Linked DNA regions of Homo sapiens. The protein of the gene in region 2 purifies or fractionates together with the protein of the main gene of each other region. This does not show direct contact. Each region holds a gene or a part of one and is shown on either strand. Other genes may lie near its edges.

Region 1 (4,552 bases), on a different chromosome or scaffold from region 2:
GTATGTATTGCTCACGGACAGAGCAATTCATTCCTTTCAGTATTCTACGTGCTTTTTCTTCCAGAGTTCATTACTTTTTCCTCTCCTTCCTCTTAAGCTTGCCTGTTTCCTGGTCTCTGTCAGTTTCTTTTTCTTTTCAAAGTTATACATTTTATGAAGAAAAGAGGAGCCTTCTTAACTGAGACCTACTTTCTTTTCCTGTGTTTATTTGAATGTAACTTCCTGAAAATAACCTGTAGGAATAGTTACTCTTATTTTCTATCCCAAGATGATACTAATGATCAGAGTTTCAGGTCATGTGTGGGGAAGATACAATGCTAACTTGCATTAGCAGTGTTATTTTCACTCTTTTTTTATAGGAAACTTTCACTGTAGTGAAACTGAGCTATTGAATGTTCCCCTACATTTATTTTTAGATCTCCCAACTTTGGTTACTACTTAACTGATATTACAGCTGAAGAACAGATTGGGTGTGGTGGCTCATGCCTGTAATCCCAATGCTTTGGGAGGCCGAGGTGGGAGGATTGCTTGAAGGTCAGAGTTTGACCTAGCCTGGGCAACATAGCAAGACTCTGTCTCTACAAAAAAGTAAAAAAAAAAAAAAAAAAAAGCCAGGCATTATGGCTGATTGTTTGAGCCTGTAGTCCTAGCTACTTGGGAGACTACTTGGGGGGAGGATTGCTTGAGCCCAGGAGTGCAAGGTTGCAGTGAGCTATGATCACACCACTGCACTCCAGCCTGGGCATTAGAGCAAGACCCTGTCTCTAAATAAATAAATAAATACACACACACACAAAGAACAAAAAACAAAACAAAACAAAAAACTTGAGGAACATAGAATCTGTATCACTTTAAATTGTGTCCCAAATCCCCTTTGTTATTCTGTGGAAATGTATGTGGAAGTTCCCTACTGTCATCATTTCAATTAAAATAAGATACAAAAGGTCACTTGTTGTTTCATTTTACTAATATTTTCCGATCTGTTCATTTATAACTTATAAAACAAATATAACTAGAAAACTGAATAAGCATATTACTTTTTAGTTAATGTAATTCATTCACTCATCCAGTAAACCATTTTTAGGGACCACTCCATGATTTACATTTGAGTTGTCCAAATAAATAAGAAGCTGATATTAAATACATTAAAAGATAAACAACATGTGAGGGAAAGATTGTAAGGCCATCCTTGAAAATTAGCTTCCCTTTAGCTTCCATTATAATGTGGGTATTAATGATTTAACCTGTTACAAATATTACTCAGTTTTTGCATGTCATAAAAGCTAAGGAATTTAGGTATCACTCTAATTAGATTGAGGAATCAGATATCACTCTAACAAGCTTTTTAATTTGTTGTTGAAGTGTTCGTCACAAAAGGATTATGTGATTCTTGCCACTAGAACGCCACCCAAAGAGGAGCAAAGTGAGAACCTCAAACATCCCAAAGCTAAGTTGGATAACTTGGATGAAGAATGGGCCACAGAACATGCCTGCCAGGTTATCTTATTTTTTTGTTTATATGTTTAAGTTTTATTTCAAAAAAGAGCTAGAATCAAGAAGATTTAGTGAATGAGTAGAGAGAAGAGACATAGGGAGAAAGTAGCTAAAGATGACTGAGATTTTTAGTCTGGGTGTCTAGGAGGATACTGTTGGCATTACACGAGGAAGAAACAGATTTGGGATGGGTGAGTGGGAATAATGACTAAATTAATTCACTTACAAGTATTTATTGAATGAATTATATATCATCAAATAAATAATGTTAGAATAAGGTAAAAATAGAATTATTTCCTTTTCTGGGGTTGGGGGTGAGGGGAGGGAACTTAGAGGACAGGTCAATAGGTGCAGCAAGCCACCATGGCACACGTAAACCTATGTGACAGACTTGCACATTCTGCGTTTTTGTTTGTTTGTTTTAAGAAAAAGAATTTTCTTTAATAAATAAAAGATTTATTTCCTTTTCCAATCAACTTTAAATCTTTAAATCTTTTAAACTCAAACGTGTTTCTGTGTATGTAGATATATATATATATATATATGGACATATATTTGTGTCTGTGTATGTGTTTGATTATGGAGCAGTGTGTAGTTATATTTAAAAAAAAAATAAAATCTTGCCTGTAATCCCAGCACTTTGGGAGGCCAAGGTGGGTGGATCACCTGAGGTCAGGAGTTCAAGACCAGCCTGGCCAACATGGTGAAACCCCGTCTCTAGTAAAAATATGAAAAACTAGCCAGGTGTGGTGGCAGGTGCCTGTAATCCCAGCTACTTGGGAGGCTGAGGCAGGAGAATTGCTTGAACCTGGGAGGCGGAGGTTGCAATGAGCCAAGATCACACCATTGCACTCCAGACTGGGCGACAAAGCGAGACTCTGTCTCAACAAAACAAAACGAAGAAATCCAGTATTTAATTATTATTGTTTTAGTCTGTTTGGGTGGCTATTAAGGAATACCTAAGACTGAGTAATTTATAAAGAAAAAAAGGCCTGTTTGGCTCATGATTCTGCTGGCTGCAAGATTGAGCATCTGGTCAAAGCCTCAGGCTGCTTCTGTTCATGTCAGAAGGCAGATTGGAGCTGGTGTGTAAAGATCACTGGGCCAGAGAGGAAGCAAGGGGTTGGGAGGTGCTAGGCTTTTTTTTTTAACAACCAGCTCTCGTAGGAACAAATATAGCGAGAACTCATTCACTGCTCTGAGGATGGAACCAAGCCATTAATGAGGGATCTGCCCCATGACCCAAACACCTTCCATTAGGCCCCACTTGGGTTCACATTTCAACATGGTGTTTAAGGGGACAAACATGGCAACTATCTTCTAAAGAAAATATTAAGTAATGTAAAGTTAAATTCCCAATGGTTTGTAAATAACTTTCTACTCTAATTTTGCTTTTGGTCTCTCATAAAATTGTATATGACACACACACACACACACACACACACACACACAGAATATTAATGAATTTATATAGTAAATTAGCTTAACCTTTTACCTCTAGAAAGAAAAGGTTAATTTTACTTTTTCCCCTTTCTTGCTCTCACCTCCATCTCCTAAAAAATGGTTACTTTTTTGTGTTGGTGATTTTGAAAAGATATGCAGGCTCCTTATGCTAAATATGAAAACTTTATTTGTCAGAATTGTGCTACTATAGTAAATAGAATTTATTAAATCAGAGGAAAACACCGAAAGACATAGTGCAAGTAGATTAAGGATTAGAGCATGGTACCTAATTTTCTAAGACTGTACTCTGATTGATTGCTTGTACATTAAGTAATCAAAAGCTAACCAAAACACTCTAATCTCTGAGTGTAGATGATAGAAAAAAATCCATGTGGTATTAAGAACTAGCCACAATCATGTGAAGGGAAATACAGATATGGAGATATCATGGTAGTATGTATCAAAAACCTTAAAAATATGTATAACTTCTTAAACCAGTTATCCACCTCAAGGGATTTGTCCTAAACAAATAATTCTATGAATGCAGAAAGATGTACTAGGATTTTTAATCAATATTATTTTAAGGTAAAATTAGATATAGCAAAGATGCCCAGTATCAGTAAGTGGGCTTAAAAATTTGAGGTTAATCTATGCAATAGAAAATAATGGATTTTCAAGTCAGACTCCCTCTGTTCAAATTCCAGATCTAGTATGCTGCTAAAAATAGGGATACAGAGGTAGAATTACTTATTCCCTTAAGGAGCTCCCTGACCAACTAGTAGGGTTCACAGATAACTATGATATAAGACTATGTGATAAAATCCATGGGAAAACTACACCAAAGCCCTGTCGGAGTTCAGAGATGAAAAGATCAGAGAAGGCAGCTTCCTCAAGCTGCCTTTGAAGTATCCAGTAGGGTTGAGACATGCAGAAGTATAAGAAAAAGTCAGTTTCGGCCTAGGGAACACCCTGAGTAAAGACACATAGTTAGAAAGCCTAGGATGTGTATGGAAAACAGTTTATAGCCTCATTTGACACTACTTTTCAAGTAGTTTTTGACAAATATTTGAATTACTTGAGGAAAAGTAGTGTCAAATGAGGGTATAAACATCATTGACCAGATCCTAGAAAGTCTGAAATATCAATCTAAAATAAAACTTCATTTTATTTAGCTGATGGTGGGACGCCATTGAAAAAATATTTCAGTCTTTGATCTCCTGAGAAAAGGATTTATTTATTGATGTAGCTAAAGGATGTTGTTATCAGATAGTTTTATTTATAAAGTAGTTTTAAGGTGAAAAGCTAAGGACATGCTAAGCAGACAGTTTCTCAAACAGAAAGGATTGCATATAATGCCAATTTGTTAGCTAATAATATATTTCTATTTTTAGGTATCCAGAATGCTACCAGGGGGACTTTTAGTTCTTGGAGTATTTATTATTACTACTTTAGAACTGGCAAATGATTTTCAAAATGCCCTGCGTAGAGTAAGTTTGATATATCGAAAATTCTTAATGAAATCAGTTATATGTTATTTTTACTGATTATGAGTATGTGTAATGATTCTAGGCATATTTACATTTGTTTTCCATAATTCTTTTTGTTGGGGTTACAT
Region 2 (4,552 bases):
CTTGCTGCTTCTGTCCCCTTTCCCCTTCCCCAGGGCCCAAATACAGACGAGCCATCTTTGAATTAATCACAAAAGCTGGGGTTTTTTTAATCACTCTGTGCCAGGCACTGTGCTAAACTCTTTTGCTAATAACTCATTTAGTCCTAGTACAGTATTACTTTATAGAAGGTCAAAAGGCCCCTAGCCCATAATTAGAAAAACCAAGAACAACCATTGTGGAACTGCCTCTCACTTCTGCTCAAGGGCTTCAATGGCGTGTAAGGTGAGAGTAACATGCGTATGGCAAGGGTCACAGAGAGTGACTGGACCTGGTTTGGAGGACTAGTTAAGAGACCTTTTGGAGGTCTCTGCAGCTCCCGGCCCCTTATTGGAGTCCAAGCCCAGAGCCAATTCCCCCAGTGGCCATAAGGTGGCAGCCTCACCCTCTGCCTGGCTGGACTGAGAAGAGGCTCCCATTCAGAGCTCTGGCACACAGGAGTCCTCTCCTTTATCGGAAAACTGCAGCGCTGAGAGAACGCGAACACTACATCAGGCTGGGCCCTGGGTGGCGATCTGGACTCCAGACTAATGAACTCCTGAACCCTGCCCCAAGGCCTGTGTTACTCCCCAGCAGCAGCCCAGCCCTTCTCCCCAGTCATCCAAGTGGGTACCTCTCTGAAAATCCTTGGAAAGGGGATCCAGGACATGAGGGGACCCTGTCCCATGGGGTCCCCTGCTCTCCAACACACAGGTAGTCCCAGTGCTAGCATTGGTCTAGGTAAGGGTCACCTCTGCCTTTGTGCAGTGGTGTGATCTCAGCTCATTGGAGCTCCGCCTCCTGGGCTCAAGCAATTCTCCTGCCTCAGCCTCCCAAGTAGCTGGGATTACAGGCGTGCACCACCACACCCAGCTGATTTTTATATTTTTAGTAGAGACAGGGTATCACCATGTTGGCCAGTCTGGTTTCAAACTCCTGACCTCAACTGACCTGCCCACCTCAGCCTCCCAAAGTGCTGGGATTACAAGCGTGAGCCACCACACCCATCCTACTTAGGGATTGTTAGATTCAATAATTTAATATACATAAAGCAGTATTGATCACAGCCCACCTATGACAGATGGCAAGAAATAAGTCTGAATGTTAGGATCAAGGGCATGCGGGAAAGACTTCTTTGTTCTCTGGCCAAGGGCTGGCTTTACGTTAAGAATGAAGTCTCCGGCCAGGCGTGGTGGCTCACACCTGTAATCCCAGCACTTTGGGAGGCCAAGGTGGGTGGATCACCTGAGGTCGGGAGTTTGAGACCAGCCTGACCTACATGGAGAAACCCCATCTCTACTAAAAACACAAAATTAGCCGGGCTTGGTGGAGAATGCCTGTAATCCCAGCTACTTGGGAGGCTGAGGCAGGAGAATCGCTTGAACTGAGAGGCGGAGGTTGCAGTGAGCCGAGATCGCACCACTGCACTCCAGCCTGGGCAACAAGAAGGAAACTCTGTCTCAGAAAAAAAAAAAAAAAGAATGAAGTTTCCTCACCCTCTCCAGGACAATCTCTTCACTTCATGAGCACCCATGAAGACGCACCATGAAGGAGCCATTCACTGAGTATTTACCAGGCCCTCTTCAGTATGCAGGGCACACTACGGTGAGCAAGACAGCTGTGGGCCCGCCCTCACTGAACTCACCACCTATGGGGATGTTCCATTACAAATTGCTGGGGAGGCCAGGCACGATGGCTCACACCCATAATCCCAGCACGTTGGGAGGCAAAAGCAGGTGGATCACTTGAGCTCAGGAGTTCAAGACCAGCCTGGGGAAAATGGTGACAACCAGTCTCTACAAAAAATACAAAAATTAGCCAGGCATGGAGGCGCACACCTGTAGGCCCAGCAACTTGTAGGACTGAGGCGAGAGGATCACTTGAGCCCAGGAGGTCAAGGCTACAGTGAGCCATGTTCATATCACTGCACTTCCGTCTGGGAGACAAAGTGAGACCCTGTCTCAAAAAAAAAAAAATTGCTGAGGAATGCTGTGAGGGAAATTAGAGGGACTTACAGAGCACGTAGCAAGGGACCTGACTCCATGTGAAAGAACTCAAGTGCACCAGCCTGGCCAACATGGTGAAACCGCATCTCTACTGAAAAATACAAATATTAGCCGGGCATGGTGGCGCATGCCTGTAATCCCAGTTACTCAGGAGGCGGAGGTTGCAATGAGCCAAGATCGCACCATTGCACTCCAGTCTGGGAGACAGAGCAAGACTCTATCTCAAAATCACAAAAAAAAAAAAAAAGAAAAGAAAAGAAACTCGGCCAGGCGCGGTGTCTCACGCTTGTAATCCCAGCACTTTGGGAGGCCAAGGCAGGCAGATCACAAGGTCAAGAGATCGAGACCATCCTGGCCAACACGGTGAAACCCTGTCTCTACTAAAAATACAAAAAAATTAGCCGGGCATGGTGGCAGGCACCTGTAGTCCCAGCTACTCCGGAGGCTAAGGCAGAAGAATGGTGTGAACCTGGGAGGCAGAGCTTGCAGTGAGCCAAGATCACACCACTGCACTCCAGCCTGGGTGACAGAGCCAGACTCCATCTCAAAAAAAAAAAAAAAAGAAAGAAACTCTTTGGGCTGGGCGTGGTGCCTCAGGCCTATAATCCCAGCAATTTGGGAGGCCGAGGCAGGTGGATCACCTGAGGTCAGGAGTTCGAGACCACCATGGCGAACGTGGTGAAACCCCATCTCTAGTAAAAATACAAAAATTAGCCAGGCGTGGTGGCAGGCACCTGTAGTCCCAGCTACTCAGGAGGCTGAGGCAGGAGAATCGCTTGAACCCTGGAGGCGGAGGTTGCAGTGAGCCAAGATTGCACCATTGCACTCCAGCCTGGGCAACAAGAGTCAGAGACTCTGTCTCAAAAAAAAAAAAAAAAAAAGATTTGGGTCTCTGAGTCCTGGGCTATTTTCCCTCTCCTTGTGAAGCATTGGTCTTCCTCCTCTGCAAAAGGATAACCATCATGGGATGTGGCAGTGGGCTGACTTCCTGGGAAGGCTAAGCTCAGTGCCTGCACAGTAGATGTTCATGAACAGGGTCTTAGTATAACCGTCCTTTTCTCCAAACCCAGCTTTACCAGGAGTCTCAGCACAGACATGCCAAATTGCTTGGGTGTGAATCCTGGGGGAGCCAGTGACCAGCTAGGTCACCTTAATACAGGCTGCAACAAGTAGTTATTACATAGCAGCTGTGGTGTCATCATCACTATAATAGCATCTCCTGGAGCATTTGCTAAAATGCAGGTGTGAGCCCCAGACCTCAGGAAGCAGAGTCTCTGGGAGTAGGACCAAACCAGGAAGTTGCTTTTTGAACCTGGTGACCTAGGTGATTCAGATGCTGCCAGCCAAACCCCTGGGAACCCTTGAAGCCCTGCCTACTTGAGTTTCTTAGTTTTCTTGCATTCCCTCTCGGGAGGAGCAACCCTTGTCTGGGAGTTAGGAGCCCTGGGTTCAGGCCCAGCCACTGACTTGCTATGGTCCTGGACCAGTCACTGTCCTTCAGTCCAGCCCAGAAGGGGTTTGGGGTGCTGGGCACGGCCCTGAGGCAGTGCCGTGCCCAGCATGGCTTCACCAGCCTGTGTCCTCTCATAGCCTGCCCTCCTATACCTGGTCCCCGCCTGCATCGGTTTTCCTGTCCTGGTGGCGCTGGCCAAGGGAGAAGTGACAGAGATGTTCAGGTAAGGCAGAGTGGGGGGCAGATGTCCTCATGGGCACCAGTGTGCCTGCTGGCAGTCAGTGGAACCTGCTGGGGGTATCTTTACACCTCTCCAGGGGAACATTGTTCCTGCCACCAGCCCCACCCCTTGCCTTTTTCAGCAGTACATGGGTACCTGGCCTGTGGACACCAGTGGGAACCTTACCCTGGGCCAGGAGCCAGGGGAGCGCAAGGCATCAGAGCCCTCTAGGCATCCCCCATCCAAATGTTAGCTGGATCTTAAGAATAGCTGTTGTGGATTTTTCTCTGCCTACTGTCAGAAGTCCTAGGTGACTCTGCCCCCAGGTGACTTCAGGCATGTCTTCCCCTCCCATGGCCTCAGTTTTCACATGTGAGTAATAGAACAGGGGGCGTGTGGGATGCCCTAGTGTGGTAGAAAGTGCCCCGAGTAGAAGGCAGGTGTCAGTCCCTGTTCATTCACCTCTGTGGCTTTAACCCACAGCTCACTGCTTTCTCTATATCTGTATCTCACACAGATACCCCTTCCCCAGGGCCATATCCACACCTACCACACCCTGCACACAGCCCCACCCATACCGCAAGGCCTGCGTGACTCCAACAGGTGTCTGCCCCCAGCACTGCCGACCCTGCCTGCCAGGGACCTAGAAATAGCTGTCAGTTGCGATTAAAGCTGCCTACTCGGGTGCCTTCCGCCCAGTTCCACCTGCCTGGCCTCCAAGCTGTCCCTAGAGCGCTTGCCAGGGCCTCCTGTGCACCTGGCTCCCCGCAGGGGAGCCTGTGACTCACCCCTCCCCCGGACCTGCCTCTGCCCTCCCTGTCCTGTCTAGAATCCCCAGCCCCCCGCCTGCCTGCCCA
Region 3 (4,552 bases), on a different chromosome or scaffold from region 2:
AGTGAAAACAGGGCCGGGCGCAGTGGCTCACGCCTGTAATCCCAGCACTTTGGGAGGCCGAGGCGGGCAGATCACGAGGTCAGCAGATCGAGACCATCTTGGCTAACACGGTGAAACCCCATCTCTACTAAAAATACAAAAAAATTAGCTGGGCATGGTGGTGGGCGCCTGTAGTCCCAGCCACTTGGGAGGCTGAGGCAGGAGAATGGCCTGAACCTGGGAGGCGGAACTTGCAGTGAGCCGAGATCGCGCCACTGCACTCCAGCCTGGGCGACACGAATGAGACTCCGTCTCAAAAAAAAAAGGTGGAAACAGTTAACAGACATCAAAGTGGATGCCTCTGGGATGAGAACTGACTTGGGGAGGGCTGGAGGAGGGAACATCTCTGTATTAGAAGGCTTTGATTTTATTTTATTTTGAAACCTTATGCATGTATAACTTTGATAATATATTCATTTGTGGATTGCCACATTGTTTTCGAGGAAAATACCCATGTGATCTTACATGAATAATCAGGCATAGACCAGTGCTTTGAATATATAAAAATTCTGTTTAGCCATGATAATTTTGGCAGTATGCCATTTATTTCTGTTGCCAAAGGCAGTGATTTAAATTGGAATTCCTGCCTGGGATGAGTAGGGCTAAGAGGTTTGATTACATATAGTTTCCCCATCTGTACTCTGGCCTCCAGCAGTTTGTTCTTTATGCAGCAGCGAAGAGTGATCATAAATAAGCTTATCTCACTCTCCAGTTTGAAAGCTACTAAACGTCTTTCATAGCAATTAGAATAAAATTCAAACTCTTCGGCATGGCCTACACACAAGGCCCTAAATAATGTAAATGATTGGACTCGCTCCCAGTTCTCCTGTCACTCTCCTCAATCACCATGCCCCAGCCTCAGTGGCCTTCCTTGGCACACCCACAGCTCATTCCTACCTCAAGGCCTTTGACTTGCCATTGCTCATGAGACCGATTGCTTACCATCACTCAGGATCTCATTCAAAACTTCATTCCTGGAAAAGGTCCTTCCCGACCATCAAGCTAGAGGAGCTTGCTGCACCCCTTCTCTGCCCACAGCTATGGATCTCCAAGTGTGGGCTTCAGACCAGAAGCGTCAGTGTTGCCTGCAAGCATTTCATTTTGTGTTGTGTTTTCTCTGGAAATGCAGAGTCTTAGGCCCCACCACAGACCCACTGAAGGAACAGCTACATTTTAACCAGACCCCAGAGTGATTGTGCTTTAAAAATTTCAGAAGCACTGATCTAGAGTTTCCCCTTCTAATTTTCCTGTGTATCTGTTACAAGGTGTGTCCATTGCTGCAGGTAATCTGGCATTTGTTTACCTGTTTATTATTTCTCTTCCCTAAATAGAATTTAAGGTCCACAAGGGCAGCACCTCGTCTGGCTCGTTCACTTCTGGATCCCCGGCACGTAGCGTCAGTGCACACAGTACATGCTCAATAAGTATTTAGATGAGTGAAAGAATAAATGAATATAATGGAAATTATTTTATGTTCTTTGAAATGTATAACTGAAGGCTGGGTGTCATAGCTCAGCCTGTAATCCCAGCACTTTGGGAGGCCAAGGTGGGAGGATTGCTTGAGTCCAGTACTTCAAGACCAGCCTTGGCACATGGCAAAGCTGCAACTCTATAAAAAAATACCAAAAAAAAAATATATATATATAGCTGGGTGTGGTAGTCTCAGCTACTTCGGGAGGCTGAGGCAGGAGAATCACTTGAACCTCGGAGGTCAAGGCTGCAGTGAGTCATGATTGCAACTGCACTGTAGCCTGGGCAACAGAGGAACATCCTGTCTCAAAAAAACAAAACAAAACAAAACAAACAAAAAGGATTGCATAATTCTACAATAAAAATCTTCATGGCTTTCACTTGTTTGTAAAATCGGGGTGATTTTTCTCTCCCAACATCATCGTTATACAGGGGTTTCATTCTATATCTTGGGCATCAAGTGCTATTAAACTATTGTGGCCTGTGAAGAATTACTTATTTATCCTTGCTTTGGGGCAGTTTGTCTTCAGAACCAAAGTTTAGATTTTGTTTAGACTGATTCTCTACTGACTTAACACCATAACTGGTTTTTTTTTTTTTTTTTAGTATTTAAGAAGCACTCTCGTTCAATCCAGAGTTAACATTATCTTTAAAGGTTTTTTATTCAAAATGAATGTTTGATATTTGTATCAAGTTTTATCAAATAAGTTAACAATTTAAAAAAAATCAGGTTTTAAAAATGTTAAGTCAAATGCAAGATTTAAAGTTAAATTGCAAATAAAAACTGATAGGGCATATAATGTATCCAGTTTTTTACATCTGAGATAGGATTCCAGGAAAGACCTATAGTTTCTGATATTATCCTGCATTTTTTTTTTTTGAAATGGAGTTTTGCTCTTGTTGCCCAGGCTGGAGTGCAGTGGTGCAGTCTCGGCCCACTGCAACCTCTGCTTCCAGGGTTCAAGTGATTCTCCTGCCTTAGTCTCCCAACTAGCTGGGATTACAGGTGCACACCACCATGTCCGGCTAATTTTTTGTATTTTGAGTAGAGACGGGTTTCACCATGCTGGCCAGCCTGGTCTCGAACTCTTGACCTTGTGATCTGCTCGCCTCGGCCTCCCAAGGTGGTGGGATTATAGGTGTGATCCACGGGCCCGGCCCTACATTTAAAAAATACATTCCCAGTATATTTCTTAATGCATATCCTGGTGAAATTTGTGAAGAAACAACTTTTCAATCTATATTCTTTGAGTGAATAAATAGCACAACTTACATTCTATGGTTTTCAACTGGGGGCAGTCGTGTCCCAGCGGATGTTTGGCAATGGCTGTGACTGCATTTTTGGTAGTCACACCTGGGATGGAGGAGTACTGGCAGCATCTAGTTGGGGGAGCTCTGGGGTACTGTTAGTTATGTAATGCACAGAACACCCCACAGCACAAAGAATTATCTAGCCCAAAATGTCAGTAGTCCACTGTTAAGAGACAGTGGACAACTGTCTCCTTCTGCATAGAGAAGTCTCCTTCTGCAAATACTAATGCCATTGGAAAACGAATACTTTGCCCTACCTTCTGGAGAAGAGAATATATAGAAATTGGCAACTGAGAGATTCAGATGGGTATACTGGCACCTTTAGATATGTTCATTTTAGATGATTATTTCTAATCAGAAATCTAGTGACTGGCCTCCCTCTCTTTGGGGCAAATCACTCTCTCAACACAGGACATTTAAGACATTTCACAACTTAGTTGATTTTAGAATTGGATAACGTTCTCAAATAATGATACATTTTTTAAAATAGGGAAATTCAAATATAGGGTTACTGGTTTTCCTTATTTTACAGATGGGGTCGAGGATTTGGTCTTTTGGGTTCCATTTTTGGAAAGGATGGTGTATTAAACCAGCCAAACAGTGTCTTTGGACTTATATTTTATATACTACAGTTATTACTTGGTAAGTATTTATCAATACAAAAATAAGTTTGTTATATTCCGTTTAGTACTTTGTGTCTTTGCCCTGAAGTGTCTTGATGTTAAAGCATGTGTTATTTATAGAACCACTAGCGTGTACAACATTTTTGTGTTATGAAAACTTGATTCACTGAGATTTTTATTATATTATTGTTGAATTTATGTCAATTGCTGTTTAATCATGGAGAGCAGTATCTCATGATGTCCAGAAAAACCAGTCCCATTCCAGGAAATTATCACTCCCATCTTCCCTGTTAACGTTTTTCCTTATTTTATAGACTCAGTGGCCTTGAAAAATATCATATATTAAGGGGACATTAACAAGAAACCATATTCATAATCCCATTACCTTTACATATCCACTATTTCCACAGTCTTCTGCTTTTAAAAATAATTTTTGGGCTGGGTGCGGTGGTGCACACCTGTAATCCCAGCACTTAGGGAGGCCAAGATAGGCAGATCATCTGAGGTTGGGAGTTCGAGACCAGCCTGGCCAACATAAAGAAACCCTGTCTCTACTAAAAATACAAAATTAGCTGGGCGAGGTGGTGCATGCCTGTAATCCCAGCTACTCATGAGGCTGAGGCTGGAGAGTCACTTGAACCCGGGAGACGGAGGTTGTAGTGAGCTGAGATCGCGCCATTGCACTCCAGCCTGGGCAACAAGAGCGAAACTCCGTCTCACAAAAAAGAAATAAATAATAATAATAATAATAACTTGGGGCCAGGTGCAGTGGCTCACACCTGTAATCCTAGGACTTTGGGAGGCCGAGAAGGGCAGATTACTTGAGCCCAGGAGCAACATGGTGAGACTCTGTCTCTGTAGAAAATACAAAAATTAGCCAGGTGTGGTGGCACACACCTGTAGTCCCAGCTACTTGAAAGGCTGAGGTGAGAGAATCACTTGAGTCCAAGAGATGGAGGTTGCAGGGAGCCGAGATCACACCACTGCACTCCAGCCTGGGGGTCAGAGCAAGACGCTGTCTCAAAAACTAATAATTTAATGTGAACTGTGTTTCAACATAGTGTCGTTTATCCTAAGTGTTATTGTTAACATCTAGGTTTCACTCCTTT
Region 4 (4,552 bases), on a different chromosome or scaffold from region 2:
TTTCTCTTTATAGAGAGGTATTATTCCAGCTAATAAACAAAGAAGGAATGGTAAAATATCATCATTTTGCAGTCCGTAATGGATTAATGGATCTAGCTAGTGACCATCCAGGACTGCTAACATCCCAAGACAGAGACACCTGTACATTGTTTTCTATGAGGCCAAGAGACATATGAGGCAATTATTACGTATGCTCTCTGACTCTTGAATCACACAGGTGCATTTAGAAAAAATAAAGGGCAGTTGAAGAAGTATGAATATTAACTGGATATCAGATGATGTTAAGGAATTACTAGGTTTTTTAGGGATAATAGTGATGTTCAAGTTATATTTTTCAAGTGAAGGTTTGTTCCTTTTAGGGATACATACCGAAATATTTACAGATGAAAGGATATGTCTAGAATTTGTTTTGAGATAATCTAGAGGGGTTGGGAGAAAATGGGGGTATAGATTAAATATGCATTAATAATTGTTGAAGCTACACAGTAATTACTTTGGCATTGACTATATTGTCATGTTTGCCTTTCCATGTGTTTGAAATTTTCCATGGTAAGAGGTTAGAAGTATTTTAGCTGTAGATAAAAGACCAATAGTGTTAGAAAATACTGTCCTGTCTTACCTTCCTTTAATCCCGATTTTACAAATACACTGTGCTTTTAAAAGGTGGAATTATCTGTCCATACCTTGTACTCATAGCCATACCAAGGGCTGCAGTGATTTTGTTTCTCTAAAACCACAATGAAAAATGATTTCCTTCCTTTGTACCTTCTAGAAAAACAGCATTCCCCACCCTTTGATTTTGTTAGGATGTAAACATGACTTTGGGATTGGTCAATCATTTCTTGGCGCATTACTGTGCCTTTTGTATGTGGTTCAGTGTGAATCAGTATATGCCTCTTTGTTTTCCAGGTCCTCGTTCACCTGGGACTCCTGACCAAGGAATCTGGATTTAAGATTGCAGAGACAGCTTTCAGTGGTGGCCCTCTTGGTGAATTAGTTCAATGGAGTGATTTAATTACATCTCTGTACTTACTGGGCCATGACATTAGGATTTCAGCTTCACTGGCTGAGCTCAAGGAGTAAGGAGATTACTTTTCAATTTTAAAATCAGAATACAAAAAAGAAATTGTAAACTCTTAAAGTATTACCTCTATTAGTGTATAATTTTTTGTCGAGGAAAATGAAAGTGATAATTCACTAAACAGGAGATAAGAAGATTATTTTCAGGAGCTAAATACATACACTGTGAAAAGGATAATATGTTTTCATTGTCGCTGAAGGCTCCAGAGGCTTCATAAATGAATGCCAGAAAATTCAAACTAAGGAGCTTATTCTTTGCTATTACAGGTGCTTCCAACATCTGGAGCACAAAACATTATTGACTTTCCTAATTCCCTGTCTCTTGCTGAAATTCATACCACTGCCTACTCAACATCAATCTTGCTAAATCTTGAAACAGGGCAGGTTCCTGTTTGTAATTCAATTTGGATAGAATAAATTTCCTGAAAGCCCTGAGCTGATCCTTTTTCAATTAGCCAACTTTCAGCTGAGTCTGTTAACTCTACTTGGGTTTTTCATTTCACTGAAATTTGCTTCTAGCTCCAGCCCTCCTGTAATCCCTTCTATATTGGCATAGCTGGCTGAGCAGGGACGCTTCCATCCCCTGCAGTCACTTAGGATTACTGCCCATGGAGACTTCCCACCCAACAGTCAAGTTGCCATGTTGCTATATGTCGTATATTTCCAGAAGGAATACCTTGAATGAACATTCTAGAGCTCATTGAGATGAGAGACATGTTAAAACAATATATGGTGGCTCCCAGCACTTCGGGAGGCCAAGGTAGGTAGATCACTTGAGGCCAGGGGTTCAAGAACAACCTGGCCAACATGGTGAGACCCTGTCTGTACTAAAAATACAAGAATTAACCGGGTGTGGTGGCCCATGCCTGTAGTCCCATCTACTCGAGAGGCAGAGGCTGCAGTGAGCCGAGATCATGCCACTGCACTCCAGCCTGAGTGACAGAGCAAGTCTCTGTCTTAAAAAAAAAAAAAAAAAATTGGATACACAACCTACAAAGTGGCTGCATTTATACAGTTAGCAGTCACTCATCTGGTGTCTTCTGTAGGCTAGTTTTGGTGTCGGGCATACAGAGATGGCCAGCTTGTGGTCAAAGATCTTGCTGCCAATCTTTTGATAATTACAACTAATATATTAAAAATAATTACACAAATTCCAATTCTATTGGTGCTAATTGAGGTGTACGTGGATGCTAGAATGTAAGCACTGGGATTGCAGAAAACTGAGTATCGTTTGTCACTGTGTAGTGGGCACCTAGATAGTGCCTAGCAAGTAATGAGTACTCACATAACTATTTATAGAATGAATGAGTGAAGGAATAAATAGGTGAATGAATGAGTGGGTAGGTAAATAAATGGAGTGCTGTGGTAGAACCAGGGACAAGTACTGCCTGGGGAGGTCAGGAAAGACATGTTAGGGATTTATCAGTCAGAGACTGAATTTGATGGTCAAGGGAAAATTTGTTCAGTATGTCCTCACTTAACATCGTTGATAGGTTCTTGGAAACTAGGACTATAAATGAAATTATGTAAAATGAAACCAATTTTTTTCATCAACATTATAACCAGTGATTTGAAGGAAATGACTTTATTGGAGGGCCTGCTATCTGTTGTTTTGTTTAAAGTCCCAGTTTTCAGGAACCTATTGATGATGTTAAGTGAGGACTTAATTCTAGTAGTCTTTATGCACACTGGGGTCAGGGCTAGATGTGTTTTGTTTAAGAAGATAATTGTGGAAGCAGTATAGAGCAGTGGTCTTTAAATATATCTGTACGTTAGAACCACCTGGAGATCTTTGTATTTATTTCTTAATTTTGGGGGATCTTTTAAAAATCCCATAGACCATGCCATAGGCTAATTAGATCACAACCCTTGGGGGTAGGACACAGCCATAAGTATTTTGTGATGCCTCCAGGTAATTTCATTATACAGACAAGTTTGGGAAACACTGAACATGGGGTGGACCAGAGATCAGCAAACTATGGCTCAGCAGGCCAAATCAGCCCTCTGTCTTTTTTTGTAAATACAGTTTCATGGGAACACAGCCATGCCTATTGTTTACGTATCATATATAGCTGTCTTCATTCCACAACGGGAGAATGGGCCAGTTGTGACTGAAAATGTATGGCCTGCAAAGATGAAGATAATCACTGTCTGGCCCTTAACAGAAAGGGTTTTCTGACTCTTGGGAGGAAACTGGTTCTGCAGAACCTAGTTCTTTCATAAACAGGGGAGAGGAAGAAGGGTGGCTGATGTGGTGGTAGTACAGAGCTGTCAAGCAGAGTCCTGTTTGTGACTCTCGTCCTTTGAAGCAGGATATCCATAATTTGGTGAAGGATTATCATGGGGTGTTGCAGATAAGCAACAGTGGTGACTGATTAGTGAGTGGATGGCAGTAGGGTTAGCACTGACTCGTTCCTACACATGAAGTTGGCCTACCAATCAAGTACATCGTCACGCTCTGAGCGCAAGTATGGTTTTGTGTGGATGGATGCATGGGTGGGGGAAAGGGTGATTAAAAAAAACTGTAAACCATAGTGCTAGTTCTGTAATATGGTCAAGCGAGGAGGAAAAATTTGACATAAGAGAAAAAGTTAAGGAACAGTATGAGGCAGGTAGAAAGAAGTTAATACTATAGAGGCTAGAAATTGAAGACATTTAGAAAAAGGGGAGGGGAAGGTTAGTAAGGGTGCTAAGCGGTAAGAACAGGCTCTGGGGGAGAAAACTAAGTTATTGAGTATCTAGTATTCATTAGGCACTTTCTTTTCAATATCTCATTGTGAAGAACCCCTGAGAGACTGGTATCCAATGTTCTTTGTATCCAGTCCTTGTTTTCTGGAAGATGAGCAAAGAGATTGAGAGAGGTTAGGTAACTTGTTTAAGGTCTCACAGCTGCTACATAGTGGTGATGGAGTCAGACCCATATCTTCCTTGATTTCAAAGACTGTGTTTATATGCCACCATTTGCTTTTGCAAGAGTCAGAATCAGGGTACTGGGTTGGCCTTAATGGATGGAAATAATTTATATAGGTAGCAGATTTGAAAGGGCCATGCTGTCATCTCTAAAAAGGATTTTTGGGGTGGCATTTGCCCATTAAAGTTGCCAAGTTTATTACCTTTTAAGTAAATGATTTTTCTCTTTTTTCTCCCCTCTCTTTTGCCGTTTCTCTAGAATCATGAAGAAGGTTGTAGGAAACCGATCTGGCTGCCCAACTGTAGGAGACAGAATTGTTGAGCTCATTTACATTGATATTGTAGGACTTGCTCAATTCAAGAAAACTCTTGGACCATCCTGGGTTCATTACCAGTAAGTGCTACATGGTGTTCTGACTTAAGGTTTTTTTTCCCCTCCTTAACAAAGGTTGCATGGTTGTGGGTAGAAAAAGCTTATCAAATAGTATCTTTTCAGCTGTATGGAGTGTTGCTCATTCGTAATTGAAATTCAGATTCTCAGTGACTTTGTACTTTCTATGGC
Region 5 (4,552 bases), on a different chromosome or scaffold from region 2:
ATTAAGAGTCTGGATTTTAAAGTAAAGGTTGACAATGATCAGGTGTATGCTTTCAGTAGTTCTCACTGGCTACAATATGGAGAAGGGACCAGAGGTAAGGCAAACCTTGGGGCGGACATCCAACTGGGAAGCTGATGTAGGAAATCAGGGCAAATAATAGCGACTAGGGAGCAGCAATAGAGAAGAGTGGCAATCACTGAGAGATGCAGCAGAAGCTCTTATCAGACAAGATGCAAAAGCTCATATCAGACAAGATGCATACAAATAATATGGAACACAAGATAACACATGTGTACCTTAAACATTTTAACTTAAAAACGCACATTTATTAACAATCTGCTGAAGTGAGTATTTTCTTTATGGGTCTACTGACGAATTCCACATGTTTTCTGCATTAATCACTTTCATCATCTATGGACTACTACTTCCAGACTGATGTTATCTGAAGTGAAGTGAGATCTTAAACACTTGAGAAACAGAGTTCAGAATCTTTCTAGAGTCAGACTATTTTACCAGCCTTTTACAGTTGCCTTGCTCTTCCTTAATTCCATGGCAGATAAATCTTGTAGTAAGTTATCTTTCAGTCTTTCCAAAGCATTCAATTTAGTTTTAAAGAAACAATTCATTTTAACACTCAGTTTCAGCTTTGTAATATTTAACTGTATGGCCATAAAAGTATAGTTAGCATAAACCAGTATGGGAACAACACAACTCAACTGATGACAGAAGCAAGAGTTCTAGAGTGCTAATGAGATGCCTACTGGCCATGGCAGGCTGTGGGTGACTGGTGTGAGGTCAGGATGCTTGGTATGGTGAGTGGAGAATGTTAACTCTGGTTAAATTGGCAACTCAATTACACGCAAGTGGGTTTTAACTACTTCCAACTGCTGTATATGTGGTACTAACATACTGGTCCTCACTGAAAAAAGAGTCAGGTTTTTTTCTTTTTAAAAGGCAAGGGTGCTAGGGAGAGAAGAAATTCAGTTTTAAATATGCTGTGATTGAGGAGGTCTGTGGAAGAGTTTGGTGAAGATGTAGTTGGAAAGCAAATGAATATAAGGTCTGGAGCTCAAAGGAGAGGTCTAAGATGCAGATAAAGATGTGGGAGCTGGCAGAGTGGGAGGGTGAGATGACTCAAATGAGGAAAGATAGCCTTATGTGGAAATCTGAGGAATCTGAAGATTTACGGGATATGCAGAGGGGAAGAAACCAGCAAAGGACAACTAGCAGCAGCAATCAAAGGGGTAGTAAACAAGAAAAAAGTATTTACACACACATGCACAAACACACAAGTAATCAAGAGTGCTAAATGCTACTTAAAGGTCAAGTAAGAACAACACTGAAACACCTACCTTAGACTGAGCTATAAGAAGGTTGCCAGTGACATTAGCAAGAAAAGTTCCAGGGTAGTCAGGGAGAGAAGCTCGATTACAATACTGTATATTGGGAAGTAAGGGGAGGGTAAGGCAGTGAAGGAGAGACAGCATAGGCAATAAGTGTGGCTGGGAAAGAATGGCCAGATAGGGCAGTAGTGGATGAGGTCAAAGAGAAGGGAATTTCAACATGGGAGAACTGAGCATGTTTAAATACTTAGGCAGAAACCAGTAAGATGGGTGGGTCTAAAGACATAGGTAGAAAAATGGCTCTCTAAAGATAGGATTCAGGGCTCAGGTTTGGGGCTAACTCTTCTCTAGAAATAGAAGGGAAGAGAGTGAAGAAGAGTATTTTGCTTGGGCAGTTTGTGTGGGTTTTGTGGAAGCTGAGGGAATTTCCTGCTGAGGGCCGAAACCATCAAAATGACTGATGACCTAAGTCAGAGGCTAAAGGGAATTCCCTTCTCACTCCAGTCAGGCCAGTAGAAGCAACCAGACAGGTTAATGGCAACAAGATTGCTACCAAAATCAACAGATACATTTCATAGTAATAGTAAATATCTTATCCTACAAAACATTTTCATTAAAAAGGGACAAACAACAGTTCAGCGGTTTCTTTAAAAACTAAGCATATATCTACCATATGACCCAGAAATAGAACTCTTGGGCAACTATCTCAGAGAAATGAAAACTTAACATTTGTACAAAAACCGGTACGTGAATGTTTATAACAATTTTATTCATAGTAGCCCCAAACTAGAAACATTCCAGATGTCCAATGGTTAAAACAAACTGTGGTACATCCATACCATGGAATATTAGCAATAAAAAGGAGCAAACTTGATATATGTAATGTCCTAGATGAATCTCCAGAGAATTATTCAAAGGAAAAAAAAAATCCAATCTCAAAAGGTTACATATTGCATGATTCCATTCATAGCCCATTCTTAGAATAATAAAAATAATAATGATGGCTAACAAATTAGTGGCAGCCAAGAGAAAGGGGAAAGGTGTGGCTACAAAGGGGTAGCACAGGGAAGCCTCTGCTGATGGCACAGTTCTGTGTCTTGATTGTGGTGGTAATTATAGAAAGCTATCCACATGGTAAAATTACATAGAATTACACACACATGCACATACAAATGTGGGACCTCCCTGTACTTTTTTTTTTTGCAATTCCTGTGAATCTATAATAATTTCAAAATAAAAAGTTAAAAAATAGTAATTCAAATCTATACTGGTATCCAAACCTTTAAGGGATTTCCTCTCCCTTCTACTGGCTATACAAAATGTATACATCCCCACAACTGCAAAGAATTTATATAAAAGAAAAAAAATAGTCTAATTGTAACATGAATGGTTACATTCTCTGATTTCCTGTAAGTTAGTGAAGCATGAAATAGCCCAGCATGTCCCAAACAACTTCCTTCAGACAGGTGTTAGGTAAGGCATTCCCAATCATTACACCACAGGATATAAAGTGACAACACCAAGATAAATCCCAGAGGGCCACTGTGTAAAGATACTTCCTTAGTCTCCTATAATCATACTTACAGGATGAGTTCTAACATGACTATAGTCTAATAAAATACTAAATATCTAACATTTCACTTGCCTTTTTCTTGCCTCTATGTTAAATCTTGTCCAAGTTTTAAAAGTTTCTCTCTGAGAAATTTACAAAATATACCTCGGTTGTATAAAAGTCAATTAACTGAGAGAAGATACCAGCCTAAAACTCTAATTAGGGTCTGGGAATAGCTGAACCACTCATTTTACAATTAGACTATTAGGCACACTCATGTGTGAAGGCTATATGGCAATAAAAGGTTATCTGTAGGACAGACATAGGCTGCTTGTCTACTTTCAGTAAAAAAAGACAGGATCCAGCTTGTCCAGAAGCAGTCAGTCTCAAGTCATTACAAGTCCTATTCCAAACGTATTAACAGGTGGCATTCCTACTGACCTTACTGACCTATTGCCTCAGAGCAATAGCAGGAAGCAGGTTCTGCCTGGACATCTTAAGAGAATCAAGGAGTACAATATTAAGTATGGACATCTGGCAGGGCACAGTGGCTCACACCTGTAATCCCAGCACTCTGGGAGGCCAAGGCGGGCAGATCACTTGAGGCCTTCTGGCCAACCTGGTTCAAGACCAGCCTGGCCAACATGGCAAAACCCCATCTCTACTAAAAATAGAAAAATTAGCTGGGCATGGTGGCGCATGCCTGTAATCCCAGCTACTTGGGTGGCTGAAGCATGAGAATTGCTTGAACCCAGGAGGCAGAGGTTCCAGTGAGCCAAGATGGCGCTACTACACTCCAGCCTGGGTGACAAAGCGAGACTATCTCAAAAAAAAAAAAAAAAAAAGTGTGGACATTTACTAGCTCCCATCTCAAGTTAAAGGCCAACAAATTGGCACTACAAGCTATAGTCAATATGAAATTCTGTCGGCCAGATGCGATGGCTCACATCTGTAATCCCAGCACTTTAGGAAGCCAAGGCGGGAGGATTGCTTGGACTCAGGAGTTTGAGACCAGCCTGGGCAACATGGTGAAACCCCATCTCTACCAAAAAAAAAAGAAAAAAAATTCTCTGCCTACCCATCTCTGAGGCTACTAACCTTTGTAAGCTCCCACAGCATTATGCAATTGCTAGCTCAAAGTGTACTTGAACTAGCAACACTCCAACACTGTTCTACGTATAGGAAGATACAAATGATGGAGTAATAAGCTCAATGTACAAGAAACAATAATAACAATATATTTTATACCACATTAACTGAGCATTCATTATATGTAGGTTAGAAAATCTCAAGAAAATGTTCGAAGGAGCCGGAGAAGGATGAGTGGAAAAGCAGGACTCAAACCAGGCAGAGACACAAACAGAACCTGGATAGACAGAGGACATTCTAATTCTAGGTGGAGGATGAAAAAGAACATATTCATAAGGGCAAGAATTTGCATAGTAAATCCAAAAATGATAATAAGGCAACTGACCTAACTGGATGGGGATGAAGAAAAAAATGGTTTAGGAGTTGGGTGTGGTTGTGTGATGATCATGCAAGGGAATATGGATGTTTAGATGAAGGCAGGAGGGAACACCTGTCTGGTTTAGTAGGTTAGAAAACAGGAGGAACAGAGGATTGGGTGGGGCCTAAAGGAATTCTACAGTTCCGAGTG
Region 6 (4,552 bases), on a different chromosome or scaffold from region 2:
GGACAGAAATAAAGCTGGGATGGGGATAGGAAGTGAGGGGTGGGTAGAAGAGTTGCAATTAAATAGGGTAGTCTAGAAGGCCTCTCTGAGGAGGTGACGCTTGAACAAAGACCTGAAGGAAGTGAGAGAGGGAGTCCCAAAGATACACGAGGGAAAAGCTTTTCAGGCAAAGGAGCAGCCAGTGCGAAGGCCCTAAAGTGGGAGGTGCCTGGTGTGATGAAGGAAGGGCGAGGAGGCTGGAGCGGGTGAGGGGAGAGGGGTGGCTGGGGACAGATGCAGATTATGCCAAGCTTTGGAGGCCATGGGGAGGACTTGGCCTTTACTCTGAGGGAAATAGGAGCTGAAAAGAGTGACTCTTTTTTTTTTTTTCTTTTTTCTGAGACGGAGTCTCGCTTTCTCACCACAATCTCGGCTCACTGCAACCTCCGTCTCCTGGGTTCAGGCAATTCTTCTACCTCAGCCTCTCAAGTAGCTGGGATTACAAGCACCTGCCACCACACCCAGCTAATTTTTGTATTTTTAGTAGAGACAGGGTTTCACCAGGTTGGCCAGGCTGGTCTTGAACTCCTGACCTCAGGTGATCTGCCCACCTCGGCCTCCCAAAGTGCTGGGATTTCAGGCGTGAGCCACCACGTCCAGCCTTGTGGTATAATTTAGATGGTATAACGTTCACCTGTTCTTAGGATAGAGTCCATTGGCTCCTGGTCCATTTATGCAGTTGTGTGGTGCAGCCATCACCACAGTCTGGTCTGAGAAAGCTTCTGTCCCCTCAAAAAGTTCCCTTTTACAGTCTCTGCTGCTCCCAATCCTAGGCAGCCACAGAGGTGCTATCTCTGTAATTTTCTAAAAATGTCTTAAACAAGGATCTAAACAACATCCAGTCTTTTGTGTCCAGCTTCTTTCATTGGGCATAATGGGTTTGAGGTTCATGTTGTTACATAGATCTGCAGTTGTTCATTTTTATTTTATTTTTTACAACCTAGGATCAGGGAAATTTGGCCTTTGGGGAAATCCTAAAGTACGTGCTCACAGTTGTTCCTTTTCACTGCTCAGTGGTAGTCTGCAGACATGACACAGTTTATTCTTTCAGTCCTTGAAGGATATTTGGATTGTTTTTAGTTTTTGTCTGTTGCCAATAATGCTGCTATGAACATTCATGTACAGGCTTTTCTGTGGCTGTATTTTGTTTCTTTTTTTTTTTTTCTAAGTAAGAGAGACAGGGTCTCCCTGTGTTGCTCAGGCTGGTCTCGAACTCCTGGGCTCAATGGATCCTCCTGCCTTGGCCTCCCAAAGTGCTAGGATTATAGGCATGAGCCACCACACCTGGCCACTGTTTGTTTTTGAGACAGAGTCATGCTCTGTCGCCTAGGCTGGAGTGCAGTGGTGTGATCCTGGTTCACTGTAGCCTCATTCTCCAAGGCTCAATTGATCCTCCCGTCTCAGCCTCCTGAGTAGCTGGGACCACAGGCATGCACTACCACACCTGGCTAATTTTTGTATTTTTATAGAGATGAGGTCTTGCTGTGTTGCCCAGGCTGGTCTTGAACTCCTGGGCTCAAGCAGTCTTCCTGCCTTGGCCTCCTGAAGTTCTGGGATTATAGGCGTGAGCCACTGCGCCTGGTCTGGCTTCATGTTTTCTGCCTCCTGGGTAGCCATTCAGGATGGGTTTGCTGGATTGTGTAGTAGGTGCACATATGACTTGTTCAATAACTGCCATATTTTCCGAAGTAGCTGTACTTTTACTTTCCCCCCTAGCAGCATACGAGGGTTCCTGTTTTTCCACATCCCTGCCAGCACTTGTGATTGTCTTTCTGCTGATAGCCATCCTAATAGGTGTGAAGTGACACCTCATTGTGGTTTTAACTTGCCTTTCCGTGGGAAGGTTCCCAGCCAGATTGCCCATCACTAACGGGTAAGCGAAGAGACCTGGGAGTCAGTCAGATGCAGCTTCAAATCCTGACCTGGCATCAAGTGTCCTTTCCTGACCCCAAATCAGCTCAGACCCATTGAAACCCATACTTGGACCCCTAAATTTCCCAATAGCTAGGCTGGCCTTGAGGAGGGGGCCTTGTGCCTGTCTGATTTCCCTTCCCCAGCCGACCCCCGCCCCATAGATCTCCTCATCAGAATGTGGCTTTCTCTGTCTCAGCCTAAGGGTCTCACCCAGACGACCCAGACGTCAAAGGGAGCTCCTCAGGGAGGCCTCTCTGACCACCCACTCCAAAGTGGATCCCTGTTCCCAACTCAGTTGCTGTCACTTCCCCCTGCTTGTTTTCCATGTACCATTTTTAATTATCCTGTTTACCGTTCTAGTGTGTTTCCTTCTAGATCCCCAGCTCTGGGTAAGCAGGGCCCAGATTTCTGTCTAAAATGTTCCAGTATTTTCACAACCTGGTCCACAGGTCAGAGAGGTGAAGTGATGTGCCCAAGGTGTCACAGCCAAGAACGGTGGGACCAGGACTATAGCTGAGGTCTGTTTGACCCTGGAGCCCCTCCAATGGTGTCCTGTGCTTTGGGAGATTACAGGAAAGAGCTCTTGCTGGTGAAGGGGACAGGAGGTGACAAGTGACACATTTAACACATGTAGCCCCTCTAACCATGCTCCTGGGACATTTGCTATCTGGTGGGTAAGGTGAATGGAGAAAACATTGCAGAGGAGTGGACTAGGGGCTGTGGAGGAGAGGGCCAGACACTGGAGCCTCAGAGGGAAGTGGGTTTGGGTGACCTGAGCGTCCGGGGTGAGTCCTTCAGGCAGCGGTGGCCACACAGGTGTTTATCACAGCCTTGCTCTGTGCCACTGGTGCTCTTGAGCTAACTGTGACTGTGATAGCCCTGGTCCTGCCTCTTGAAGGCTGATGGCTGAGGGGACAGCTGGGAGGAGGGGTGAATGAGAACAGGACTGGGGAGCTAGCAGGGTGCGTGAAGGGTGAGCAGAACATCCCCTTCCAAACCTGGCATTCAGAGAGTCTCTGATTGTGACCTTCTGTGTCTGAGTGAAGAGTCCTCCTCTGGGAAGCCGTGCCTGGCTCCCTTGCCTGCCCCCCTTCCCTTCTGTCATTCTGCTTCTGCGGTCCTTCCTGAGTGACCAGACAAGTGGCTTCACCTCTCTGAGCCTCCCTTTGCTCAGCAGCCGGATGGAGCTGGTCATAGTTTTGGCCTCAGGATTAGTGTGCTGTGTGCTGTCACAGACATGTCTTGTGGCCGTGGCTTATGGTAGCAGCTGATAGTCTGGTTGTGTTTTTCTGTGTCTGTCCCACCTGCTGGACCAGGGGCCCTTGGAGGGCAGGGTTGGCCACAGAGGGGGCCTCAGGAATGGTTTGCCCAGGGAAGGCTCTTTCAGCTAAGCCCCAGCCTTGAAGAATCTGGCACCTGCCATAAGACTCCTTCTGTTGTTGTCCCCAATAGCCACCTCCTTGCATCCTGGCTCCAGCCCCAGGGAACAGTGGACAGTCATCAGAATCAGACTGTGCCTCTAATCTTCTGTTTCTGCACCTGCTGCTTCTCTCACTTCCTCCTTTGTGCCACCAACTTGCTATGTTTTAGGTCTCAGCTTCAATGCCCCCTTCTCCAGGAAGTTGCCCCGAACCCTAGACTGGACCAGGTGCCTCTCAGGGCTCCTGCATTCCTGCCCCGTTCTGGACAGTCACTGTCTAGAGATGAATCTTTCTCCCCCACCGGGCTGTTAAACCCCAGGAGGACAGCAAAAGACTCTCTAGGTCACCACTGTCCCTAGGTCACAGAGGTGCTCTGCGAGTGTTTTCCTCCTAAAAGAAGAGGACCGCACCTTCCCAGGTGTTTTCACTGATTCATTCTCCAGTTATTGATAAGCACCCACTCTTTGCCCAGCCTGTGCCTGGCCTTCATGCATGATGGTGTCTAAGACAGCCCCCGTGTCCATTCTCCCTCCTTACCCTGGCCTCTGTCCCCCACAGGTGACCAGCAATGGCAGCATCGGGAGGGACCCGCCAGCGGAGACCCAGCCTCAGAACCCACCGGCCCAGCCGGCACCCAATGCCTGGCAGGTCATCAAAGGTGTGCTGTTTAGGTGAGCAGACGGGACTTGGGTTTGTTCACCGAAAACATTCAAATAAAAATAAGGAAGAAAGGAAAAGTCAGCTGATCAGCTGAGGATGGTGATCATTACTGTATGGTAGAGTTGCTTTTTTTCTTTTTTTTTTTGTATGATGGAATGTTTTCTAAACCTTTTTTTTACTCTGGTAAAACATACTGAAGTAGGGAGTCTCCCTGAACCTGTTCTGGTTTTTGGGGGGCTACCTGATTTGTGAAAAAATAAAAACACAAAAAATACTGAAGTAGTTTGCTAGGGCCCTTGTATCAAGTAATATAGACGGAGTAGCTTAAACAACTGAAATAGGAAATTCATTGTCTTACAGTTCTGAAGGCTGGAAGTCCAGGATCCAGCTGTGGGCAGGGGCAGTTTCTTCTGTGGCTTCTCTCCTGGGCTTGCAGAAGGCCGTCTTCTCCCTGTGTCTTCATGTGGTCTTTCCTCTGTGTGTGTCTGTGTCCTAAGCTCCTCTTATGGGGACACTAG
Region 7 (4,197 bases), on a different chromosome or scaffold from region 2:
CCAGTCCTCCACCCTCTCCCAACAAAAATAACAATGCTGTTGACAGTGGAATTCACCTTACAATAGAAATGAACAAGTCTGCTACCTCTTCATCCCCAGGAAGCCCACTACATAGTTTGGAAACATCACTCTGATTGTAAGCTGAATGTTAACACACTAGCTGCATTGTAAAGAAACAAATTGAAACTGGGTCTTTTCACATATTGTGATGGACAAGCTAGTATTCTTGTCTTTGGACTTCAACAGAAGACACACTTGTACGAATGTAGATTTATTTTTTTAAAAAAAAAAAAGCAAAGCTTTCTGCCAGACTGAGGGTGCTTTTTGGGGGGTGGGAGAAATGAACTGACAGATAAACAGTAACTCAGCGTAAGTGACCTGTGGATCATCAGTAGTACCCAAGCATGGTCCTGAACAGTGTATTAGCAGAGCTTTAGTTTATCTCAGTCCTGGATGGGAGAGAGAGGGAGGAGTAAAACTGGGCAAGACAAAGAGCCCTGGATCGTTGAATTGATAGTTTAATTTCTGCTGTTGGCTGTTAATAATTTGGATTATTTATGTTTATAAATGATACAGATCTGTTTACAAGGTTTGTAGATACTTTTTTTGTTCCTGTTCATAGATGGGAAGCTTCCTTATAACTGATGCAGAGAAAAATTAGTCCTTCAAATACTGCTGTATTTTCAGGAAAAAAAAAAAAAGGGGTGTTTCTATTGAAACTGTACTAAATTTTTGCCTACAATTTACCTTGTTAAATATTGTAGATAAATTGCTAATACTAATAGCCAAATAGATAACACTAATGCTTTGTTTAAAAAAACGAAAAAAACAAAACAAAACAAAAAAACATGAGCAGTGGTGTTCTAATGAAGTTATGACATCTGTCCTAATTAGTTTCTTAAATACATTTACTACTTAATGGTTTTGAAGCAACTGTTTAATTTTTAAAATTTTTGAAAACTTGCTAATAACCTTTTGTTCAGAATTTAGTAGATTGTTTAATGCAGGACATCAACTACATAATGAAAGATGCTTGAAATGCTTTTGTTATTTCAGGCAAATCAAATTAAATCAGACTATCAAACTACAAGAGAACCTTAGTCTTTTTTGTTTTTGTCTAAACATGTTAGTTTAGTGATGTCTTGGTGAACTGTGAGTGAACTGTATTGATTTTTCTAATCTTTAGAGACCTTCACACAGCATGAGGGCTGTTGGCATTTTGAAAAAGGTTAATAAGTAGAAGCATACATGTTTTCCTTTTGTTTTTGAAACTTGTTTGTAAACATAAATAAATATGCCCTTTTATTAAATAAATTCATGGCAATGTTTTTTTAAAAGACATTTCAGCTTCTTTACTCAGTTCTGCATATACAGTGCATCAGTCTGTTCTCTTTGACCACAATTGGAATACATTTCAAGATGGTAACAGCCCCATGAAGTACCGCTTTAATTCCTTGCTGGTAATCTAATAGAATCAGATTAAGAAAATTAACACAATTTTACCATTTGACATACTCTTCATTGAATTTAGTTTGTCTAAAATAGTCTCACAGGTAAAAAACATAACAACAATGACCACCATTGTCTTTGATACATTTATTTTAATTCTTAAGTGGCCAAATAACAGATTAGGTAAAATGAGATTACATGAAAAGGTTCTAAAATGATATATTTAGATGCAATAATTAACCATATGCTAGAATGCCCACCTCTAAGCCAATTGGATTCTTTAGCTCTCTTTTTCTTTCCTTCATCTACCTTCTTCTCTTTTTTGCCTCTGTCTTTACCCTTTAGAAACTGGCATGTGTTAGGGCCCAGATTTCACCAGATACACAATCCTCAGGCTGACATAAAGTTTACGAGGACTGCTACTATAACTGAGAGTGCTGACCAAGCAAAGAAACATTTAGTTGATGGTGCTTGATATTTTTGGTGGGTGGGGGAAATCTTTTTCTCACCATCAAATCTTTGCAGTAATCCTCTGCAGGTCTTAGAAACACATTGGCTCTGTCAGCATTTGTAATTGTACATTTATTCATCAGGTATTTATAGTGAATCATACTGTAAAAAAGAGGTAGCATGATATGCTGGAAAGCATATTAGACTAGGAGTCAAGACCTGGTTTCTAGTCTTGGTTTTGCCATTAATGTGCTGCATGATCTTGGGAAAATCATTTACCCTAAATAAGGGTGGTGGACTATCTTGAAGAACCCTTTCAACTCTAAAAATTGACCCTATCAACTGGAGAGCCCACAAGGCATAGGGAATAGAGAAAAGGGAAATGTTTTCAGTTTTCTTTTTTATTTTGGTTATGCTTAAATATGAATGTAATTACCAAAAGATTTAGAAGTGCATGTGCTTTGGAGGATTTGTATTGAGCTTTTACAGTATTCATTTTTCAACTCAAGGCAATGGCTTTCTACACCAACTCTAATCCATAAACGGGTCTTATGACATCTATGAAGTAGTAGCAAGACATGCTTAGTGTGTATTTCTCTCTTTGAGACACTGTAATTTCTACCAGAAATTTCCAGAGCATTATGTAGGTAGAAAAAAATGCAAGCAAGCTGTTAAAGATCTTGGATCCCATTATATAGTATGTATAGCTGAAATCTGTAATTCAATCACTTTTTCTCTTTTATCCTCTAACCAAAAAATTGTTTAATTTTGCATCCCAAATGTTTTTAATCTTTGTATATTTTTTAAAAATCCTTTTCTCCTCATCATTGCCTTTTTTGTGGTTGTAAATAGACTTACTTGCACTTTGAAGATGAGTTACTCCTTGTCATCTTACAAATATGTGATATGGTAATTTTCATAACAGATGTCAGTTTTGAACCAAGAATTGGTGATTTGTTTATAAGAAAAAAACTGGCTTCATTTCTGTGAAATTGCTCTTTGAAAATTTCTTTTTACACGTGTAAGCCAACTGAGATACCGTGATGGTGTTGATTTCTTTCAATGATGCTTACCATCTATTTTAGCCACTGAGCCTTTTATTATTTGTCTATTTGTAAAGTTTATTTGTCTTAACTCATTTAATAAATATACTGTTTATCTGTTTCTGAATGGGGACTGAACTTTTTGGATATTGATATTGATTTGAAAATATTTTGGAATTTTTTCTACTTGAAATTTTAGAAATCTAATTGAAAATTCTATAATGTACTTGAAATGTTATGGTTGTGTTACAGTGAATCACTCTTCTAATAATATGCATGATCTTGCCTCTAAAATGAGAGTGGGTACATTGTCCCTACTCTCCAACCCACTGTCCTCAACCCTTATAGCACAATAGATCATTTCTGCAGTCTATGGGAATGTAATCTGCTGGTTTTAGTACAGATTAGTTTTTCACATTAGCTGTAAGAGCTTATTTTTATTTCATTATCCATACTTGTCAATACCAGTTATCTGAACTCTATGGTAAAAATTAATAAAATTATCCATAGTTGTTTTTTATAATAAGTTATTAATATAAACTAGCAACTTTGTTGAAATACTGAGTAAACTTTAAATGATGATGAATACCATATTTTTCAGTTAGTATAAATCATTAGTAAATTATTGAGTATACTTAAGTACCATATTTGTGACATGAAAGATATTTTCCATTTTGTCAAATTGGGTTTTATATATATATTATGTATTAGAATTGAATTTTGAATTAAGTTCTCTTTGTAAAAAATTAGCTGAGAAAGAAAGGGGAGTTTAAGCCTTTGCATGTTGACATTGTTCCTTCCCCGCGCCTTTAAGATTGTGTCTTATTGCAGCTGCCTTCTTTCTTTAACCTGTGCTACTCTAAGACTCTTATGCTCAAACCCCCATCAACTTTTATCTTTTTTAATTAGTCTGTTAACACTCATTTATAGACCAAAATAAAAGATATTATTAATAGCATAATTATACTACCTCACTAAAAATCTGAAAAATAATCTTTCTTTTAGAATAAGTGTTTTTATACCATAAAGACTGTTTCATGTGGTCAGGAAGTTGATAGTTGTGTTTCTGTACTTTTCTTCATCAGTATGTGTCACAAAAGCCAGGCATTGTGGCTCATGCCTGTAATCCCAGCAATTGGGGAGGCCAAGGCTGGACAATCATTTGAGACCATCCTGAGCAACAAAGCTAGATCCCCATCTCAACAACAACAACAACAACAAAAAAATATATATATATATCTAGTGGTGGTGCAAG

What was found.
Region 1: the proteins of HM13 (region 2) and ODR4 purify together in Homo sapiens (affinity purification with mass spectrometry; one large-scale study listed by BioGRID and IntAct). This does not show direct contact.
Region 3: the proteins of HM13 (region 2) and VKORC1L1 purify together in Homo sapiens (affinity purification with mass spectrometry; one large-scale study listed by BioGRID and IntAct). This does not show direct contact.
Region 4: the proteins of HM13 (region 2) and MGAT5 purify together in Homo sapiens (affinity purification with mass spectrometry; one large-scale study listed by BioGRID and IntAct). This does not show direct contact.
Region 5: the proteins of HM13 (region 2) and CMTM6 purify together in Homo sapiens (affinity purification with mass spectrometry; one large-scale study listed by BioGRID and IntAct). This does not show direct contact.
Region 6: the proteins of HM13 (region 2) and CLPTM1 purify together in Homo sapiens (affinity purification with mass spectrometry; one large-scale study listed by BioGRID and IntAct). This does not show direct contact.
Region 7: the proteins of HM13 (region 2) and ATP2B1 fractionate together in Homo sapiens (co-fractionation; one large-scale study listed by BioGRID). This does not show direct contact.

The regions. Positions count from the first base shown.
Region 1 is NC_000001.11:186,381,660-186,386,211, forward strand, and holds part of ODR4 (protein odr-4 homolog), read left to right. Parts: intron 1-1,362; coding exon 1,363-1,497; intron 1,498-4,328; coding exon 4,329-4,424; intron 4,425-4,552. UniProt on the Homo sapiens protein: May play a role in the trafficking of a subset of G-protein coupled receptors.
Region 2 is NC_000020.11:31,562,598-31,567,149, forward strand, and holds part of HM13 (signal peptide peptidase), read left to right. Parts: intron 1-3,612; coding exon 3,613-3,698; intron 3,699-4,552. UniProt on the Homo sapiens protein: Catalyzes intramembrane proteolysis of signal peptides that have been removed from precursors of secretory and membrane proteins, resulting in the release of the fragment from the ER membrane into the cytoplasm.
Region 3 is NC_000007.14:65,945,319-65,949,870, forward strand, and holds part of VKORC1L1 (vitamin K epoxide reductase complex subunit 1-like protein 1), read left to right. Parts: intron 1-3,352; coding exon 3,353-3,462; intron 3,463-4,552. UniProt on the Homo sapiens protein: Involved in vitamin K metabolism. Can reduce inactive vitamin K 2,3-epoxide to active vitamin K, and may contribute to vitamin K-mediated protection against oxidative stress.
Region 4 is NC_000002.12:134,340,681-134,345,232, forward strand, and holds part of MGAT5 (alpha-1,6-mannosylglycoprotein 6-beta-N-acetylglucosaminyltransferase A), read left to right. Parts: intron 1-909; coding exon 910-1,079; intron 1,080-4,249; coding exon 4,250-4,384; intron 4,385-4,552. UniProt on the Homo sapiens protein: Catalyzes the addition of N-acetylglucosamine (GlcNAc) in beta 1-6 linkage to the alpha-linked mannose of biantennary N-linked oligosaccharides.
Region 5 is NC_000003.12:32,492,478-32,497,029, forward strand, and holds part of CMTM6 (CKLF-like MARVEL transmembrane domain-containing protein 6), read right to left. Parts: intron 1-4,552. UniProt on the Homo sapiens protein: Master regulator of recycling and plasma membrane expression of PD-L1/CD274, an immune inhibitory ligand critical for immune tolerance to self and antitumor immunity.
Region 6 is NC_000019.10:44,958,031-44,962,582, forward strand, and holds part of CLPTM1 (putative lipid scramblase CLPTM1), read left to right. Parts: intron 1-3,932; coding exon 3,933-4,045; intron 4,046-4,552. UniProt on the Homo sapiens protein: Involved in GABAergic but not glutamatergic transmission. Binds and traps GABAA receptors in the endoplasmic reticulum (ER).
Region 7 is NC_000012.12:89,586,921-89,591,117, reverse strand, and holds the end of ATP2B1 (plasma membrane calcium-transporting ATPase 1), read left to right. Parts: coding exon 1-134; 3' UTR 135-3,069; downstream 3,070-4,197. UniProt on the Homo sapiens protein: Catalyzes the hydrolysis of ATP coupled with the transport of calcium from the cytoplasm to the extracellular space thereby maintaining intracellular calcium homeostasis.